Homo sapiens: one gene and its partner. The protein of the gene in region 1 interacts with the protein of each later gene in a pairwise test. Each region holds a gene or a part of one and is shown on either strand. Other genes may lie near its edges.

Region 1 (3,747 bases):
GGTATGTGTGTCCCCAGCCATCACCATCCAAGCTGTGTGCATTCATACTGGCGTGGGGATGTGTGTGCCCTGTCTGGTTGACTCGAGTGGGCCGCCTGACCCCAGCCCAGCCTAGCTCCCCAGCAGGCAGGCCGGTAGGTACCTGATCCCGGAAGGGCAGGCTGGAGAACACAGGCAGGTTCTTGGCCCACTTGACGGCCATGAAGAGTAGGCGAGCCGAGGTCTCATGGATGCTGTCCAGGCCGCAGGGGGAGGAAGAGGAGTATGGAGAGGAGGGGAACTCAGGGTCATTGCTGGTGACATCAATATTCTCATCAGCTGTTGGAGGAGGAGGTTGTGATCTTAGCGCCTGCTTCTCGGGAGGTGGCAGGGAGTACTTGGAGCCCCGGGGGAGGGAGGATCAAGGCAAGGCGCTGCAGCCCTGCTGTGACCCGGGAAGCCAAGCCCTGCTGTGCCCTCAGCTGCTCTCCCACTCACCATCCTCTGGCTCCAGCTTAGCACAGGTTTCAGCTGTTATAAGGCTGGCCATGAAGTGGTGGCCCAGGGCTCTGGCTGCAGACATGGGTGTGGGGCCCCGTGGGCTGCGCCCTGCCGGGGCCGGGGGAGCCACCAGGGACTCCGGCCGGGACTCAGTGTTGGACTCCATGCTGTCCAGGTGGACCTGGGCTGTGCTTCGCGGCTGGCGCTCGTTCTGCACGGCTGGGGAGGCAGGAAGGGTCAGGACGACACGCCAGTCCCGCTGCCCATTTCTTGTCACCTCCCCCCGGGCCAGCCCCCGCCTCACCGTCCTGGTTCATCCCCGCCTGCAGGCACTTCTTCAGCCGGCAGGCCTGGCACTGGTTGCGGTGGGCCTTGTCCACGGGGCACATCCCTGCCCCCACCTGGCACCTGCAGGTGAAGAGGAGACCCCAGGGGTCAGTGTCCCTCCCATGCCCTGAGCCATGGGCTTGGACATTTTTGCCCAAGCCCCTCTTCCCCTGAGCACCCCCTCACCCCTCCAGAACCCCTCAGGGGCAGACGCCCAGCAGGGCCCACCGCACTCACCTGTAGATGAGCCTCCGCCGTACGCTCCTCTTGAAGAAGCCGCTGCAGCCGTTGCAGGCATAGATGCCATAGTGCTTCCCGCTGCTGCTGTCTCCGCACACGCGGCACTGGAGCGAGGGGCTCACGCCTGAGGGGCAGGGGGCAGGGCTGGGCCAGGGCAGGGCTGGGCCGGGGCAGGGCTGCACGCTCCCCTCCTTCCCTCGGGTCCCTTTCCCAGTCCTCAGGCCCCGCTCACCCGCATTTGAACGAACCCACGCGTGACTCTTCCATCTGGAGAAGTGTCTCCCTCACTGTGCATCCACACCCCAGCCCCCACCCCCATTCCTTGCCCTCTCTCCTCCCTCAATGGCCAATTTTCAGCAAGAGTCCGAGCCCTAGCTCCACTTTCCCAGCTCCCATCCCTTCTCTGTGGGTGGCTTCAGGCTCCATCATCCCACAGAAACATTCTTGTCAACGCCACTAGGGACCTCTGTGCTGTTAAGCCCTAAGGGCGCTTCTCTGTTCTTTCCTTCCCCATCGGCTAGGCTGTCCTGTCCTGGCTCTGCAGCCTGCCCGCCCCCAACCCCCATCCCCGCCCCACCGTGTTTCTAGGATTCTGGGTTTACCCACAGGCTACCCCACCCTTGCCCACAGCCGGCGGGGCTGGGTCTGAGTTGTTCTGGCTCCTTCCATGGTCCCTGCGAACCTCTGGCCCTTACCCTGCTCCCCAAGGGCCCAGACCCAACCCTACCTCCAGGAGAAGCCATACCTGTGGGATCCTCCCCCAGGCCCCATCTGCCTGGAGACTCCTTCCTGGAGGCAGCCCCAGCTGCAGGCGCAGCTGCAGCCACTGTGGAGCTCATCAGAGCTGTTGGTCTGGTCTCCATGGGTTACAGGGCAGCCTCTGCCTGCCTGCGGGAGGCCTGGGTTGCTGAGCCTGGCCCAGCCTTTGCCTCAGTCCATGAACCTCTGTCTCTCTGTGCCCCTGTCTCCCTTCCTGAACTCTGTCTGAACTCAGGAGCTGCCCCAAGGTCCCGAAGCCCCTCACAGCACAGGCTCTGGCTTGAGGAGATTTCTCCCGGGGCAGCCGCTGGACGCAGTTTATGATCCTCTTAATCTTTACTGTCTCCACAGGGGATCAACTGGCCACACCTGCAGCATTACCAAGGTGCCCCGGGAGCCGGTCAGTCCTGCTACCCCATGCTGGTTCCCGGGCTGCCCAAGGTCCCCCGGGGCCCTCCTGCCCTGTGTGCTCAGCTGTTCACCATTTCATGCCACATCTTGAAGAGAGGTGTGGACTCCACCTCTCCCAAGGACTTTAAATCTTTTTCTTTGTTTTGATACGGAGTCTCGCTGTGCCACCCAGGCTGGAGTGCAGTAGCATGGTCTCGGCTCACTGCAGCCTCTGCCTCCTGGGTTCAAGCGATTATCCTGCCTCAGCCTCCCAATCAGGTGGGATTACAGGCACCTGCCACCACGCTCGGCTAATTTTTTTTGTATTTGTAGTAGAGATGGGGTTTTGCCATGTTGGCCAGGCTGGTCTCGAACTCATGACCTCAAGTGATCTGCCCACCTCAGCCTCCCAAAGTGCTGGGATTACAGGTGTGAGCCACCCCACCTGGCTGGACTTTAAATCCTTTTGAGCTGCTTGGCACACATCCGAAGGCAAGTGTGTGGCCAGTGTGTGTGTCTTTGCCTGTGGGGGTCCTGCCTGAGACACTCCCCTTGGGTCCTAGGTAGATCTGGCTCTGCCCCACGAGGTTCTCACTCCAATCCCTTGGAAAGGGACTGCTTGGGGCTCACGATTTGAGGATCCAGCCCCCCCAGAAGGCTAGCAGTCCCCAGACACCTGGCACAGAGGACGTTCCCAGAACCGTCCCCCGTAGGGTCTGAGGCTGGCCTGGAGGAAAGAGGCCTGGATCCCCATCTGGAGGGTCTCCTTCAGGCCTGTGAGGGGGCAGAAGAGGAGCTGGCAGGCTCCTCTGGAGAGCCAGGCCTGCAGGACTAGAGCCAGTGAGGACACAGCCACCTTGAGCCTGGCCACGGGCTCTCAGGAGTCCTCCCCTTCCCCCCGAACTCGGCCTCACAGCTCCGCCTGCCTCTTGCCACACCAGCCCCCTGCGCTGCTCCCAGGTCCATCCTTCCCACCTCCAGCCCAGCGATGCCTCTGCTCCTGTGGGAAGGAGAGGGAAGGAGGAACTTGTCTTACATCCTTGCCTTATAGTAAGCCCCGGGCCCCCGCAAGGGAGTGTGGAGAGAGCAGAGGCAGACCCAGGTTCAAGTACCTTCTCCATCACCGGCCAGCCATGTGTCCCTGAGAAAGTGACTCAATCTGTCCAAACTTCAGTTCCTCACCTGTAAAACAGGATGAGAAGAGCACCTGTCCTATGGTGTAGTTGGGGAACTAAAGACAATGGTTCAGGAAATGTGTTTCAGAGCCTGGTACTCAGTAAGAACCTAATAAATGGTGTGTGCAGCTGATATTGTTATATTCTTGGGGTTACTGAGAAGGTCACACTCAGCAGCCTTTTCTTGCCTGCTCCTCCACCCCCAGGCCCACTTGCCAGCCCCCTCCCTGCCCGGGACAGAGCTGAAAGCCCATGTTGTCCTGGAGGGGACCACTTGTCCCCAGCAGACCAGAGCTCACCTCAGGATGAGCTGGGGTGGGGTTGGTCCAGCCTTAGACCCCAAGGGGAAGCGGGCGGAGCGTGAAGCTTCCAGAAG
Region 2 (3,647 bases), on another chromosome or scaffold:
TTGGAAATAGGCATTTTTAGCAATCCCGCGTGCCTGGGATGAGAATATTATAATTAACTATTTACTGAGAGGTCAAAGAGGCGCAGGCGCTTTGAGCAGTTTTCCCAGGAACCCACACAAAGTCAATTAAGGTCATTTAATTGCAAATCGGATTTGGGGTGACACGGAAATGCTGATATAGAATCAGTTAGCTGTATCCGGTGTCCCCAGACTGGGTCGCACAAATTAAGGGATGGCCTATCTCGCTTTTGACCTTGGTTGAGCCCCCTACTTCACTATGCTGATTAGACTTCGCCCAAGAGGGCAAATTTGCCTCTCCCACACCCGCCCTGGGTTAGACGAGTCCCCTCCCTTCCCCCCAACCCCGCTCCGCCCGTCGCATGGGGGCGGGGAGCGCTGGACGCCCTTAGCGGACCTTGCTGCATCAAACCTGCATCATGCCCTTGAAGCTGTAACCTCGGTCACGTTCTTGCGGCGACTGGGTCGCCCACTGCTCGGTTCCTTTCTCTTACCTCCTACAATTTCAGGTAGGTATGACAGGTGATTTTTTAAATGTAGTATTTTAGGAGAAGGGCTAAAATCGATGCCTTTGCAATGAAAAAAATCCCAACTACAGGTGCTCTCGTAATTAAGCGGCCGAGCAGGTGTAAAAACGTGCTCCAGCCGCGTGGCTCCGGGGTGGGTTTTGACTTCCAGCCGTGGGGCCGGGTCTGAGGACAGGCACAGGTTTTTCTGGGGAAAAGGGATTGAGCTTGGCGAAGGGGCGGGCCAAGGCAAGGCAGCGATGGGACGCCCCCTCGGTGAAGAGTTGGCCATTTCGGGTCTTGAGTTGGGGGGCGATAGAAGGATGCGGCTAGCGGCAAGCGTTTGCATAGTCGAGTGCAGGATTTCCTACTTTGCGTTTGAAGCAGAGTACAGCACCCCGCACAGGTACTCTGGGCTTATTTAAACGTCAGGTTCTCTCTAGAGAGGCAGGGAGGGGCAGCAGGGGGCTAAGCCTTTATTTTCTGTCCAGGGACAGGACCCCTTGGCTGCGAAGTAGGGGGAAAAAGAGAATTTTTAAAAGAGACACACATATGTGTGTATACTTATATATATTTATAAATACATTTATGAACACATAAAGTAACCCCCACGTTAGCTGCTCTGACTCCCCGTTAGCGCCCCGGGCCTCGGGATTTGCAAACTTGCACCTGGAATCAGCCTCCTCTGGGCGCTCAACGCTCTCCACCGAGTCCAGAGAAACCTTGTCGGGGAAGCCTGGTGAGACTCGGAAGTCCGGAGGGACGGAGCTGAGCTGCTGAAGCCCGGCATCTCCCTGCCGGCACGGACCCGAAGGGCGGTCGGGCAGGGCACGCGCCGGCGGCGGCCGCGGCGCCGCGAACTCGCCGCCGGCCCCGCCTCCTGGCGCTCTTCCAAGCAAGCCCCTCCTTCCCGCCCCGCTACAAACGGCGGGACCGCGGCGCCTGGGCGTCACTGAGGCAGTAGCCGGCCGGGTGAGGAGGGCGGTTGCCGGCGCGGCGCGGCGCGGCGCGGGTGGGGCGGGGGTTCCGCCGGCTTCCAGTCCCCTTTCCCGCCGCCGCCGCCGCCACCGCCTCTCCGCGGAGCTCGCCCCGAGCGACTCCTCCGCGGCAGTGCTGACGGCCAGCGGCACGAGCCGTAGTAGCTGCAGCTTCGAGTCACAGCAGGCAAGTGCTGGGGGCGTGGGGGCGGGGACGGCGTCCGCGCCTTGCCCCTGGTCCATTTTGGACGCCGAGGCTAAGGTCTGTGCGCGCCCCCGCTGCGTCTAGCAGGGTAGGGGTGGTGCGCCCTAGTCCGAACTCTGGGCGGGAACACTGGTGGGGGCGGCGGAGGTTGTGCCCGCGAAGTTCCTAGAGCTCAGCCCGTTGCGGCGGGAGTAGAGAGAATTGGGCGCCTCGGGAGGTGGCACCGCCCCTCCCGTGGGCACAAGCAGGTTGGGGGCGGCGGGAGCCGAGCGGGGACAGTCGCGCCTGGCAGCGTGCACGGGCGTGGACGTGCCCGGGTGCGGCCGCGTGTAGCGCAAGAAGGAAACTGTTGAGACGCAGGTGAGTGTATTGGAGGGAAAGTGGGGGAGGGGGCTTTTCTAGAAAAAGGGCAGGATTCCTGTGTTGCACTGGCAACCCCGCCTTGCGGGAGGATGTGTGCACTGGCTTCTCCCGCGGAACACGCCGGGGTGGTGTCTGGTGTGTGCCCACTTGCTACGGCGCCTTCGCGCGCGCGGTCCTTGGAGCTCTCGGGGCGTTTGGAGACTTAACACCGGCCGCGTTGTGTGCGGAGGTGGTGTAGGGCCGCGGGCGCCCAGGGCAGGAGCAATGATGATCCCCTCGTGCGCGTTAGGTGAGGCCCGTCGCAGCCGCGCGAGGTCGCAGCTCGCGGTCACATCTCGGGTTTGCGCGCGAGGCGTGCGCTGCGCGGGAAGCGCGGGCGCTCTGCCGGGCGAGGCCGGCTCTGGGATTTCAGTTCGCTTGCCGTGGTTGCGGCAGCTGCTCCTCCAGCTTGGCTGGTAGGGCCTGCCAGCGGCGGCCGGGGTGCACGGACTAGTGTGCGTGCACTGGTGAGACTGGGGGAGCCAGCGTCGGTTCACTGGCAGGTGCTCCTCCAGTGGCCGTGACAATGCTTAGCCAGCAGTCTTTCTCACGGCATTTCCTTAAAAGCCTCCTTGTTATCCTTCAGGGCCAGAGCGTAAAACCATGCCTCTAGATGCGAGCTATGAGCATGCAGTTGTAGCTGCCCAGATGGTCATTTAGAATTGTGTGCATTTTTAAAGACCATCTTTATGACAAAGATTTTCAAGTCCTATCGTCTCTACATTTTCTGAAAACATGGGAAAAGGATTTGCTACGAGTTGTCCACTCTCCTTTATTCCCTCCCTCAAAGAACGGTTCTTAGAAGTGCCAAAATGTAATACCTTCGGCAAGGACAAAAGCGCTTTTAAAACTTAATTTTCTAGTGGCCCTATTCCTAATAATTCTTCATAAAAATTTAGCTCAGCCTCAAAACTTACGGCGAATCAGTCCATTTAAAACCATTCGAATATCAATTGCTGTGTAATGTCCCCATTCCCTCAAGTAAAATCTGTTTGTTTGAAATATTGTTTTGTTGCCCTTGAAGAGTTTTCTCAAGAATCGTTTCGCCAGAGTCGCTTGAATTTCCCATTTCTTGTGGAAGCTGACCTGGAGTTTCCATTTTGGTGAGCGGGTGGAAAAGCTGTCCTGCATCTACCTTGTCTTAGTAACCTTTGGGTATATATAAATGGTGACTGTATTGCTGAGTGGACCCGAATGTTACTGCATTTGTGGTAGGGGCCTTCTTTATAGGAGGTTTGTAGGGATGCTAAGGTAACAACACTTAAGGTTGTGGGGAGGATATACTTACGGGAAGTTCGCTTGCAAACTATGGGGAGAGAAAGAAGAGGAAGAAAACATCTGGAAGATAAAGGCCAGAATGGGGTAGGAAAAATTAGAATATGAAGAAACATGTTACATTAAATTTTCTGTGATTCCTCCTTTGTAATTTTCCTTTTTGAGAGAGTATTTTTATTTTTGTGTGGTTAAAACCAGCCCCTTGTTGCCTGTTATTTGGGTAACTTTGTGCTGCCACCTTTCAGGGAGTTAGTTGTTTTTTTC

Evidence for each region. The genes of interacting proteins can lie anywhere in the genome.
Region 2: the proteins of NR2E3 (region 1) and ELAVL2 interact in a two-hybrid assay, tested with the Homo sapiens proteins (one large-scale study listed by BioGRID and IntAct).

The regions. Positions count from the first base shown.
Region 1 is NC_000015.10:71,808,907-71,812,653, reverse strand, and holds the start of NR2E3 (photoreceptor-specific nuclear receptor), read right to left. Parts: upstream 2,101-3,747; 5' UTR 1,911-2,100; coding exon 1,793-1,910; intron 1,172-1,792; coding exon 1,045-1,171; intron 889-1,044; coding exon 785-888; intron 700-784; coding exon 478-699; intron 319-477; coding exon 143-318; intron 1-142. UniProt on the Homo sapiens protein: Orphan nuclear receptor of retinal photoreceptor cells. Transcriptional factor that is an activator of rod development and repressor of cone development.
Region 2 is NC_000009.12:23,819,646-23,823,292, reverse strand, and holds part of ELAVL2 (ELAV-like protein 2), read left to right. Parts: intron 1-160; exon of another isoform or gene 161-527; intron 528-737; exon of another isoform or gene 738-930; intron 931-1,472; exon of another isoform or gene 1,473-1,688; intron 1,689-1,983; exon of another isoform or gene 1,984-2,066; intron 2,067-2,136; exon of another isoform or gene 2,137-2,358; intron 2,359-3,647.